Linked DNA regions of Homo sapiens: regions 1 and 3 are each reported to be linked to region 2. Evidence: microRNA targets listed by miRTarBase, many of them from high-throughput screens and not tested one by one. Region 2 holds a microRNA gene; each other region holds the end of a gene's coding sequence.

The links. The annotated mature microRNA hsa-miR-3617-3p reads CAUCAGCACCCUAUGUCCUUUCU and lies in region 2 at 2,750-2,772, shown strand. An mRNA with a match to its seed (bases 2 to 7 or 8) in the 3' UTR can be bound and repressed. Matches are read on the target gene's strand: a 7mer-m8 pairs with bases 2 to 8, a 7mer-A1 pairs with bases 2 to 7 and ends in A, and an 8mer does both.
Region 1: miRTarBase lists CYRIB as a target of hsa-miR-3617-3p. Seed matches in the 3' UTR shown: 7mer-m8 at 2,499-2,505.
Region 3: the mRNA of VASP is a reported target of hsa-miR-3617-3p. Seed matches in the 3' UTR shown: 7mer-m8 at 553-559.

Annotation. Positions count from the first base shown.
Region 1 is chr8:129,838,312-129,842,504 of GRCh38, forward strand. It overlaps CYRIB (CYFIP related Rac1 interactor B), which reads right to left. Exons shown (of 14, transcript NM_001353258.2): 14 at 1,282-3,894. The coding sequence ends at 3,831. Among named protein-coding and RNA genes, the nearest start is that of GSDMC, 54 kb to the left of the region's middle.
Region 2 is chr20:45,703,688-45,707,880 of GRCh38, reverse strand. It overlaps MIR3617 (microRNA 3617), which reads left to right and starts at 2,701; the gene lies at 2,701-2,779. WFDC10B (WAP four-disulfide core domain 10B) reads left to right here and starts at 2,862. Exons shown (of 4, transcript NM_172006.2): 1 at 2,862-2,963; 2 at 3,320-3,384. WFDC13 (WAP four-disulfide core domain 13) reads right to left here. Exons shown (of 4, transcript NM_172005.2): 2 at 3,287-3,437; 3 at 1,954-2,018; 4 at 1-23. The coding sequence ends at 1,976.
Region 3 is chr19:45,525,806-45,529,998 of GRCh38, forward strand. It overlaps VASP (vasodilator stimulated phosphoprotein), which reads left to right. Exons shown (of 13, transcript NM_003370.4): 12 at 141-198; 13 at 335-1,178. The coding sequence ends at 372. It also overlaps a transcript of OPA3 not described here. Among named protein-coding and RNA genes, the nearest start is that of VASP, 20 kb to the left of the region's middle.

The DNA.
Region 1 (4,193 bases), not on the chromosome of region 2:
CTGTTTCAATTTTCTCATTGTACTGATGAGGAAAATAGAGTTTCAAAGAAGAGATATGGCTTGGGTCTCCTGACCCTTGACCCACAGATCTTCGCATTGTACCTTCTATGATTGAATCTTACTCTGAAGTTTAAAATATGCTTCGAACAGTAAGAACTTCAAAACTGCAGTTAACTGCAATCTCAAATGGAACCAGAAGGACATTTCAACTCAAAAGACCTAGATTTGAGTACAAATGTCATTAATCCTTATGACAAGTCTAAAATACTTGCAGCAATCTTAAAATGGTCCAGAATGCTTCTTAGCCCAAATCTTTAAAGTGAGAAGCCAGCCAGTTGAAAAGTTCCACTTATCTATGTTGAGGGCTGTGGAAATGGGGCAGTGGTGAGTTAATTATGGGCATGTTTGGTGGAAGAGATGAGGCAATGGATTTCTCTAAATTGTGAAGAAAGGCTGGGGCATAGGCACACTAACCAGGTGCGTTTTAGAGACTAGACTGGGGTTCAAAGGATTTACCTACACCAGAGCAGACTCATACCTCCCTCCAGTGGGCAGTAATTAATCCCAGCTGATATGGTTTGGTTGCGTCCCCACCCAAATCTCATCTTGAATTCCCACGTGTTGTGGGAGGGACCCAGTTGGAAGTAACTGAATAATGAGGGCAGGTCTTTCCCGTGCTGTTCTCATGACAGTAAGTGTCATGAGATCTGATGGTTATTTTAAGGGGGACTTTTCCTGCAAAAGCTCTCCTCTCATCTGCCACCAAGTGAGATGTGCCTTTCACCTTCTCCCATGATTGTGAGGCCTCCCCAGCCACATGGAACTGTAAGTCAATTAAACCTCTCTTTCATAAATTGCCCAGTATTGGGGTATTTATTAGTAGTGTGCAAATGGACTAATACACTGGCTAAGTCCATGCCTACCCCCCATAATACTTCACTCCAAGGACAGACATGAGAACTACAGATAGAGTTGGCAGAGAAGATGCCTGCTTGCTCTCTTTGGCTATCTGACTGGCAAGTACTAGCTCTGAGGTTGAATCATCTTTTGGCAGCAGAGCTGTCTCCTTTGATCACACTGCAGCCCTCAGCTTCAATCACACTAGGTTCTCAGATAAACCTACTCTTGGATCTAGTGGAAGGAGAGGAAAATTCTTTCTGGAAAGGGCCAGATAGTAAATATATTTTAGCTTTTGAGGGCCATATGGTCTTTGTCACAACTCAATTCTGCTGCTGTCATGCAAAAGTCTCGATAAATAATGTGTCAACAAATGAGTGAGGCTTAGGTTCCAATAAAATTTTATTTATGAACACTAAAATTTGAATTTCATATGCTTTTCTCATGCCACAAAATATTATTCTTTTGATTGTATTCAACCTTTTTAAAAACCATTTTTAGCTCACAAGCTGTACAAAAACAGACGGTGAGTAAATTGGCCCACAGACCGGTTTGCTAGCCCCTGGGCTTAAGAGATCTGTCCACTTACTCCTCAACATGCAGAGTGTGAACTGTGTGAACTGCATAGGCCACAGCAATCTTACTGCATCCATTCCCGCTGCATCATTATTTTTGATTTGTATTCATTCAGTCCACCGAAGCATTCACTTGGCACCTCTCCAAATCTGGGTACTGTGCAAGATCCTTCCTTGGGACACTGAAGGAAAATCAGACACGGCCCTTCTCTCAAGTTCGCAGACTCTCCGGTATCCAGATACTACGGCTCTCATAGTATCAGAAAACACAGCCACAAGCGCAGGTAAGTATCAGAGGTGTTTTACGAGATACATGTATCAGATTCTTAAGGCTGCTGTACCAAAATACCACAAACTGCATGGCTTAAAACAACAGAAATTTATTCCCTCACAATCCTGGAGGCCAGATGTCTGAAATCAAGATATTGGTAGGGTTGGTTCCTTCTCGAGACTCTGAGGGAGAATCTGTGACATGCCTGTTTTCCTAGCTTCTAGTGACTTCCTCCAATTCTTAGGGTTCTTTGGCTCATAGATGCATTGCTCTAATCTCTGCCTCCATCTTCCCATGGCCTTCAGCTCTGTGTGTCTATTTCCCCTTCTTTTCTAAGAGCTAGTCATTGAATTTAGGGCCCACCCTACTACAGGTTGATCTCATTTCCAGGTCCTTGATTTCATCTGCAAAAACTTTTTCCAAATAATGTCACACGTGGAGATTCCCAGTGAATGTATCTCCTGGGGGCCACTATTCAGCCTATTACACTATTCTTAGAAGATGCCTAGAAGGATATGGCCAATGTTATCCAGAAGGCTTCATGAAGGAGGTAATAGAAGCTAACCCTTCAAAGATGAAAGTTGGCGTTCATTAGAGGGTCACAAGGGGAGGAAGGGAATGTCAGGTTCAGGGACCAGCCAGACCAGAGCTAAGGAAGTGACATCACATGGAACAATTTGTGAACAGCAAGCAGTAGGGCCTGGCTGCAGGACAGGGTGTGAAGTGGGGGAGCAGTGATCAGGAGGGCCAGAGAGATCAGCAGGGATGTGATCTTGAGAAGCTGTGTGTGCCATGATCTGGCCCTATTAATCCAGAAGGGTCTGATGGAAGCCTCTGTGATTCTCTTCCATGGTTAAACATTTTAATTGTATTATACCTCGGATATTCCTAAATATTTAAAACACTGGCATGGTTGAACTAGACAACCTTTAAGTAGTTTGTTCCAACCATGAGATTTAGATTTCATGATTTAGGTTTTATGATCTTAAACTGAAACCTGTTAGTTTTCTACCACTAGTGAGATCATGGCCTCTGCTTTTCTCCTGGGAAGTCCCTCTTATAATCACTCTCTTCCCATGATTAAAGGGCTACTCTGCCTTCATGTTGCTACCCGCTCCCCTGGAAATGGAGAATCAAGCAAGGATGCGGTTTTCCTTCCATTACTACATCCATACAAGAGTAAATCAAGAATAAAAGTCCAGTTAATGAAAAGATCACTGGTCTTAATATACTTAGCAAAATTTTAAAGGCAATTAAAAGTATATACATAGACAATGATCAAAATTCTAATGAAAAGACCCGGCTCTCCCCTAAAAGAAGAAAAAATCATGTAATGTATATATGCATTCCATAAAAACATACATGGGGAAAACTTCAGAAGCCTAAAAACAAAACATCAGTAAACCAAGCCACACTTAGAAAAATGAAAGCTGATTTTTATTTTATCATCAACAGCCATTCTTTAGACATGAACATGCATACGTAATATTCTACGCACACATCACAGCTTTTAACGTTAGTTAATAAAGGTTAAACACACAACATACATCCTTACAAAAAAAGTCAAAATGCAAACTTAAAACTTTAAACAAAAGTATTACTAATTTAAAAAAAGTTTGTGTTGGGTACCATTTGTACAACACAGTTAATTTAAACATTTTCATTTTGGTTGCACATGAAAAAGGCGGCAGTAGAAAATAAAGTCATTGAGGGTTTTTAAATAGCAGAATAGGCAGTTTTGCCATGCAGGAGAAGCAATATTAAATATTAGTTTCAAAAAAAATCCACATTTAAAAATATTTAGTTCAAGTCACAGAATTTTTCTCAGTAGAGACCCCAATGCAATGCATAATTAGCTGCCTTAGATGGCCCGTTTGAAAGGATGATATCCCTTCAGAGTGTAACTTTACTGATTTTGGCACAGAAAAGAAGTCTTAAGAACATGATTAAAAAAGAGGGAAGAGGAACAGAGGAAAGAAATAAAAGCAAGAATAAATGAGATAGTAATTGCAATCACTAAAAAACTGCATTCTCAGTCATTGCAGAATACTGTCTTCTGTCTACAGCAGGTGCTTATTCCAGAATTGTTATTGCAGCATGGATTTAATTTGCTTGGAGGTAGTCTCATCATTCAAATGTTTTGTTGTGTACCTAAAAAAAGAAAAGAAAAAAGATCAATTTTAGGAACTTAAAAAATAATCAGCATCGGGTTCTCTAATTATGACAGGATGGAGAATTGGTCTCAGCAAAACTCACAAAATTATGGCTTCTCATTGTAGCTTTAACCCTGTTCAGGTTCTGCACAGCCTGTCATCCTCACCCCCTTTCTAACTGAATAGCCAGTAGCTATTTAGCAGCTATTTAACTTAGTTACAACTACACTGCTGAAATGATTGGTTGACCTCTCAAGTAAACAATTAGCTGTAACTTCTCCCTCAGAAGAAAATGCT
Region 2 (4,193 bases):
CCAAGAAAAAACATCGTAGAGGCCTGTGGGGAAGGAAAGATAATTAGTCCATTTATTCTTCTTGATTCTTTAAACATCCTTGGACATCATGTTGGGTCTCTAGAGAATTACTGTCATTGAACTGTCTGTTGTCAGGCTATGCTTAGGAACTCCTTAAAGAAATAGCCCCCAAAAACTTTTCCTGGAGTCTAACATGAGGCTGTCATAGAGGGTGTCCTCTGTCATGATCACCTTTAATTAGCCATCATTTTTTAGACATCAGCTTTATGTAGCTTAAAGCAATGCTTTCCATTAGAACTTTCTGTGTTCTGTATTTATAATGTGTAATATGGTAGCTACTAACCACATGTGGTTATTAAACACTTGAAATGGAAAATAAGGCTAAGGAACTGATTGAATATTTTATTTTATTGTAATTCATATGAATTAACATTTAAATAGCCTCTCGTGACCAGTGCCTACAGTATTGGATAGATCAAACTCAGATTATTAAAACAGTGATAGCCAACCTGTATGTAAGAGACCTGCCTCACTCAGGTCAACTCGAACCACATATGGTCAGTTTCTGGTAGTAAAAGAGTCTATAGATTTTTCTGAACAGTATTTCCTGCCCTGGATCAGGGGTCACTAGGTTATGGTAGGCCAAAGATAGGACACTACAAAAGACAAAGAGAGGGACTAATTCTGTCTGGAGTGAACTGGTGAAGTTTCTATGGAGTGTTTAATTTAATAGAAACCTTGAAGCATGAGTGGGAGCTCATCCGCAGCATGGTGGGCTCACCGGAGCCTGGGCAAGTGCTCATGCGTCTAAACTGCTCCACTGGCCTCCACCTGCTACTATTTATCACGCTCCTTTGTACAGGGTTAATAAAAGGACTAAGCTGAAAGACCACCATTCTAATTTGGAACATCTGGAGACATCAGAAGGCCCATTAGAAGACCCTAAACTTCTAACTTTTTCTTTCAAATACTCTGAAACGAAATCCACCAACTTATGAATACTATCATTTTTTTGGTGGTGGAATTCCACAGGACTCCATTTTGTTCACCATTCTTGAAGCATCAGTAAAATAATAAAGATGATTCCCACTCCCTCTTTTTTTTTTTTTGAGACGGAGTCTCACTCTGTCGCCCAGGCTGGAGTGCAATGGTGCACTCTTGGCTCACTGCAACCTCTGCCTCCTGGGTTCAAGCAATTCTCCTGCTTCAGCCTCCTGAGTAGCTGGGATTCCAGGTGTGCACCATCACACCCAACTAATTTTTGTATTTTTAGTAGAGACAGGGTTTCACTCTGTTGGTCAGGCTGGTCTTGAACTCCTGACCTCGTGATCCGTCCACCTTGGCCTCCGAAAGTGCTGGGGTTACAGGTGTGAGTCACCATACCCGGCCCACTCCCTCTTTTTTCAGAGAAAAAACTGGAACCTGAATGAGTGACCTTGTAAGTGAGTTGCTGGCAGTTTCTACCTTTGCAGAGACCAAGTTCTTCCATCTACATGGCCTTGTGTTGTCCTCCCAATACCCCAAGGCATGGATGTTTTCTTCATATTTCACATGAGGGAGGTGACTGTCTCAGAGAGGTACAGTGAGCAGACCAAAGTCTCAGAGCGTGAAGGGCTCAGCTTGAGTCCCTGCCCAGGGTGCTGTCAACCCGGAGGCTAGAAGAGCTTGTTCCTTGACAAAGCCTCAGATCTGAGTGCCCTGGGTTCCCCCTGGGCCATGACTTGGTTCCTTACATTGCTCTGTGTTGCAGAATTCATGCTGGACTGCACCGTGCCTCCCCCAGGGAGTGCAAAGATAGCCCTTGGAGGGGAATGATGGAGGAGGAGGCAATCAGGTAATGAGAGGCCATTCTGAGCTTGTGGGAATGTAGTGCCCCTGGTGAGGCTACAGGAAGAAAGTGAGCATCCCTGGGAATCTCACATGAGGAAGGCGAGACCAAATCCCTGTACTTACAAAATGATCTAGGAAATATGCCTCAGTTGGCAGGCATGATGACTTCTGAGCCCTTGTGTTTGATTCTGTAGAAGAAAAATATTTTCAAATATTAACTAGTGAAGTTTTACTTTTAGAGATATATATTTTTCTTTCAATTACTTCCACCATTAATATTAGACCATGAAGCTCATTTCTCTTGCCATAGGGAAGGCAGAACCTCAAAAAACTCAATGACACCAAAGAGTTATATTTATGCTTCTGCATTCCAATGTAGAGCATTGAAAGATGTGGAATTTAATTGCAAGGGCTAGTCTCTTCAAAGAGAAGTGGTTGCCTAATCCCCAAAATTCACAGCAATTATGTTGGCAAGTAATGTTTTAAAGCTTACATGGATTGTCTATTTTAACCTCACTATTATTGTTCCAGTCTTAAGGATGAGGAAGTTGATGCCCAGAGAGAGGTTAATTAGCTTGTCTAAGATCACTTAAGGTCACTTAGCTAAGAAGCCAGGATTTGAGCCCAGGTGTTTGGCTTTGAGCCCATGCTTAATCACTCTGCACATTATCTCATGCTGGGTATTCTGCTCATGGTAGGGAATACAGCAGGGAACAAGACTGCCAGGCTTCCCTCAAAGGGCTCATTGGTTGAGTCTTCCACTGTGAGTCTTTTGAAATTTCATATGGGCCTTGCAAAGCAGGAAAAAACAAGAGTACTTATTTTACTCATGAGAAAAAGAAAGTAAAAAAGAGGGAATTGTCTTACTCAAGGTCATAGAAAGACATAGTTGCAAGATGGGATTAGAAACCATATGTCTCATCAGCACCCTATGTCCTTTCTCTGCCCTGGGAGCACACTCCATTTAGCAGGCTTGCGGCTAGTGTTAATGTCTGGACAATTAATCAAAACTTCCTTTGGGCTGGATCTCCAGAGCCCAAGAACACTGGTGGCCAAAGGATGGTGTCTTGTGAAAGGAGGGCAAGCAAAAGTGTAGGACAAATTTTGCTTTGGGATTTTGGTTACACCTGCAGGTACAGTGTCCCTGGGATAAGGGTGGATTCTGGGTCGGGGGAAGGTCTGTGGATAAAGGCATTTGTGGGTGTGTTCAGAGAGGCAGAGTCAGAAATTCACGGATATGGTGATGGGATGTGGTGATTGGGAGGGGAGGAGGGCTTTTCTAATCAGGACTTTTATGGAAATTATCCTTGGTCAAGAGAAGGGGCATGTTGGCAACATGGCCACCAAGGAAAAAAAAAAAAAAGGAGAGATCCAGCACAGTTGCTGGTAAGGGACTCTTCTGCTGGGCTCCCACCAGCAGCTCTAGGATCAGACCTGGATATGAGATATCTCTTACCTGTTGCGCTTTTGAAATGTTTCTGATGAACAGACTATCCCACAGAAGGAGGAACAGCACTGAAATCCTTTCTCGCAATCTTCCTGCATTGTACACAGGTGAGTACAGTTTTCAGGTGCTGATATGCAGGGTGGAGGTTCCAAGATATACTCTGGAACACAGAACAAGTAAGAGAAGGGCCTCACCAACAGGCTGGAGTAATGTTCAGAACTCAGAAAGCCCAGGGAACTGCCAGGAAACCTGCCACCCTCATCTGCCTTGCATGGTTCCAGGGTGGTGGCATCAGGTTTTGTCCTCAGCTGCTGCCTTCCTCTGAGTTCTGAGCAGGGAAGCAGGGCATGGATATTTTTTGATCAAGAACAGAGTTTGGTAGAACCCTGCACCCATTGGTCATTCACCATCCTTGTAGTTCAGATGCCAAGCCCCCATTGACTATGGTTGTGTCCATATCAAGGGTATCAATGGTGTATGTGGTGAACAAGAAAGAGGTTTGTATGTTCGTTCTGCACTGATTCATTGTGTGGTCTTGAGCAAGTTGTAGAGCTTCTCATTAACAACATAGTTTACCCTGGGGTTAACCTAACATGGGTTATTTGTGTACAGGAAGAATGAGTGAAAGGTAAGTTTTGGTAAAGGATGAAGACCATGCATTAAACTGAAGGTACTGGATCAGAGAGCTGGGACCCAATTCACAAGTAAGTTCTGGGAGTGACTTCTTTCATGGTAAGAAGGGTGGGGATTTCAGAATGGCGTTCAAAGATTCAGCTTTTTTCTTCCTTGGTGTCTCTCGATCAGGAGGCCAGAGCACCAGGATGCCCCACTTTCTACTGTTAGAGAAGAATAAGCATCATTATGTTGACTTCCTATTTCCTCCCCTACCCCCAAGTATTTCAGTTCAAAGCTAAGA
Region 3 (4,193 bases), not on the chromosome of region 2:
CTGCAATGAGCTGTGATCATGCCATTGCACCCTAGCCTGGGCAACAGAGCAAGGTTCCTTCTCAAAAAATAAAAGAAGGGGGATTCATTCCTGCAAGTCCCGGTACCCCCTCCTGATTAGTTTTACCCCATTAATTTTAGGAGCTTCTGGAAGAGGTGAAGAAGGAATTGCAGAAAGTGAAAGAGGAAATCATTGAAGGTGAGGTGGTTTGCTTTGGTTTTGTTCTTAAACATTTACTTATTTTGGAGGCATCATGTCCCTGGGCAAGAGCCCTGTTTTGGAAGGGAGGAGGCAGAGACTCTGCCCCTGACCTCTGCTCCTTGTTTCCTTCCAGCCTTCGTCCAGGAGCTGAGGAAGCGGGGTTCTCCCTGACCACAGGGACCCAGAAGACCCGCTTCTCCTTTCCGCACACCCGGCCTGTCACCCTGCTTTCCCTGCCTCTACTTGACTTGGAATTGGCTGAAGACTACACAGGAATGCATCGTTCCCACTCCCCATCCCACTTGGAAAACTCCAAGGGGGTGTGGCTTCCCTGCTCACACCCACACTGGCTGCTGATTGGCTGGGGAGGCCCCCGCCCTTTTCTCCCTTTGGTCCTTCCCCTCTGCCATCCCCTTGGGGCCGGTCCCTCTGCTGGGGATGCACCAATGAACCCCACAGGAAGGGGGAAGGAAGGAGGGAATTTCACATTCCCTTGTTCTAGATTCACTTTAACGCTTAATGCCTTCAAAGTTTTGGTTTTTTTAAGAAAAAAAAATATATATATATTTGGGTTTTGGGGGAAAAGGGAAATTTTTTTTTCTCTTTGGTTTTGATAAAATGGGATGTGGGAGTTTTTAAATGCTATAGCCCTGGGCTTGCCCCATTTGGGGCAGCTATTTAAGGGGAGGGGATGTCTCACCGGGCTGGGGGTGAGATATCCCCCCACCCCAGGGACTCCCCTTCCCTCTGGCTCCTTCCCCTTTTCTATGAGGAAATAAGATGCTGTAACTTTTTGGAACCTCAGTTTTTTGATTTTTTATTTGGGTAGGTTTTGGGGTCCAGGCCATTTTTTTTACCCCTTGGAGGAAATAAGATGAGGGAGAAAGGAGAAGGGGAGGAAACTTCTCCCCTCCCACCTTCACCTTTAGCTTCTTGAAAATGGGCCCCTGCAGAATAAATCTGCCAGTTTTTATAAATGCTAAGATCTCTGGAGTGATTTGAAGGCCTGTTCTGATGGGGATGGAGGTGTGCTCGGCCCCCGGTGCCCCTCCAGGAAGATTTGGTCCTCTGCTGAGAACCCCTGCCTCCTCCCAGGAATCCACCTTCCCTTCATCTTCCTTCCCACCCTGCATATTGCGCCTGCTCACTCATCCTCAGGCCCGCAGCCAGGATGATCTCTGCCCCCTCCAGCCTCCCTCCCCATGCCCCTTAGGAGGCCACTTCCTCCCCATCCCACCCTGCCCTTCACCACCCTAGGGGAGGCCAGAAGCAGCCTCACTTTGTGTAGCCTTGGGCAAGTCCATTTGCTTACCTCAGGCCTCAGTTTCTGATTTGGGAAAGGGCTCATAAGATGATTCTCTGCCCCCACTCTACCACTCTCCCAGCTTCTTTCCTCTTTTTTTTTTTTTTTTTTTTTAATGAGTTGGAGTCTTGCTCTTTCACCCAGTCTGGAGTGTAGTGGCAGGATCACAGCTCACTGCAGCCTTGAACTCCTGGGCTCAAGGGATCCTCCTGCCTCAGCCTCCCAAGTAGCTGGAACTACAGGCGTTTGGTATGACGCCTAGCTAATATTTTCATTTTTCGTAGAGATGCGGTCTTGCTGTGTTGCCTAGGTTGGTCTCTAACTCCTGGCCTCCAGCAGTCCTCCTGCTTTGGCCTCTTAAAGTGCTGGAATTACAGGCGTGAGCCACTGTGTCCGGCCTTCTTTCCTAATTTCAATGACATTTTGCAGACGCACATTATGGTTCTCAGACACGTTCTTAAGATCTTTACCCCAGAGCTCCTTTAATTAGAAAACGCTGACAGTCGATTTATAAAGTAGCATTCAGAGTCACAGAGCTCATCCACGCCCCCTTCAGTTGTCGGGTGGGTAGGTCATATGGCCTGGTGGAATACCCCGCTTGGACAGGGGGACCTCTGGGCTGAGGGACAGGTAGTCCCCCTGGAGGAGGCCTTTGCGTGAAGGAGGGCGGAGGAGGACCTGGACCAGTCCAAAGGCAGGAAGGAAGGGCGATCCCTGCGTACCGTGAGGGGCAGATTTGGAGGGAAGTTGGGCGAACTGACGATGACTTAGGTAGTAAAGGGACAGGCCGGTCCCTAGCAAAGGCAACTGAAGAGGACAGCGAGGGAGGACCGGATAAAAGGACAGTAGCAGTAGGTCCAGGACTGGGGACTGGTGACCAAGTGACTGAGCCTGAAAGCCAGAATGGACTAGCCCTGGTCAAGACCGGTTTTTCCTCCCAAAAGGCCACGTCCTGCTGGAACAGACCACAGAATGCCGGGCTGGGAGGCGTTTCCCTGGAAGACCCAGCATAGCCATGCCAGTGGGGTGCGCCATAGGTGGAAGAAGAGGGGGGTTATGTTGGATCGATCCACTCAGGGAGGGGAGGATGTCAATGACAGGTACTAAGATGGATTAAGGTCAGGAGCCGCAGGGTGGTGACTCATTGGAGCTAACGCAGTCCAGGATTCACCCCCACCTTTCCCCCTAAGACTGAGGTAGATGGAAGGGGGCGGGTCGGGAAGTCCGTAGGAACTTTGTGCATCTTTACAATGGTCTGTACCAATGAGGAGGAGGTAGGTGGTGTTCGGTGCAAAGGATGAGCGTCCTAGGGGAAGGGTCCACTCAGGTGAGTGAGGGTGCGGGTGACAGAATGAGAGGTGGCTAAATCCGGGTGCAGAATTTTGTTTTGCCAAAAGAGGTGGACGTCCTGCTGGCCTACCTAGCGGTAGGGAGGTGGGGTCTGATAAAAGACGCTGTCTTTCCAAAGTGCTCAACAAATGCGCTGGCAGGGGCGGGGTGGGATAGGGCGGGGTCCTTCTTGGAACGTTCCACCTGCAGGAGGCGGAGAGTCCCAGTGGAAGGTACCACTGGGCAGGTTAGTAGGGAGGTTCGATCAGCTCCAGCCCAGGATCTCTCCGGCGCCCCCGAAGGACTGGGTGGTGTCAGCTGGGCCGGTCCAGGATGGGACAGTGCGGAGAATAGGCCAAGACAGAGACTTCGCAGTCCAGACAGCAGTCACCTCCAAGACCAGGGCCCCGAGACCTCCTATTTCTCGGACGCCGGCGCAACTGGGGGTGCAGGCGGCGGGTCTCGGAGGCAGAGGTGGGCTCGCACCTCCTGCAGCTGAGCGCGCAGCTCCTCCAGGGCGAGCTGCGTCGACGTCGCCTGCACCTGCGCCTGCAACTCCTCGAGCGCCAGCCCCAAGTGGCCCACCTCGCCCCGCAGCGCCTCCCTGGCAACACGTCGCTCCTTTTCCTTGCGGCGCTGCTGCAACTGGTGGCGCCAATACTCCAGCATCAGGCAGCTGCAGGCGGTGATGAAGATGATGCCCTCGCCCAGCAGCTCCGCGCCCAGCTCGGCGGCTGCACCCTCGTTCAGCGGCTTGATGGCAGCGGCATTGAAACCCATGATGCGCATTTTGGTCCGCATCTCCAGCCAGTGGTACACTGCAGGAAAAGACAGGAGTCAGGGGTCTTTTGCAGGGCAGCCTCCTATAAGCCCCGACCCTCTGTGCTTCGATGTCCCCGTTGTAGCAATGGGGATGTGGTCACCACAATCGGACGCGTGCTGGCGGGGACGCCTTAACGAAGACAAGTGCAGGCCTCACACCCAGAATCCTCTAGGGAAAACTTCCTTAACTAATGACTTACTCATGTGAAGGTGGAGTGTCAGCTTTTGCATCGTTATAAACACAGAAGATGCTGATGCTCTTTTTTTTTCTTTAATTTTTCTTTTTTTGAGCCAGGGTTTCGCTCTATCGTCCAGGCTGGAGTGCAGTGCCGAAATCACAGCTTACTGCAGCCTCGAACTCCTGGGCTCAAGCGATCCTCCTCCCGCCTCAGCCTCCAGAGTAGCTGGGACAACGTGTGCGCGCCATCATGCCTGGCTAATTTTTTAATTTTTTGTAGAAATGGGGGCTCCTTGCGTTGCCCAGGCTGGTCTCGAACTCCTGGGCTCAAGCGACCCTCCTGCCAAAGCCTCCCAAAGT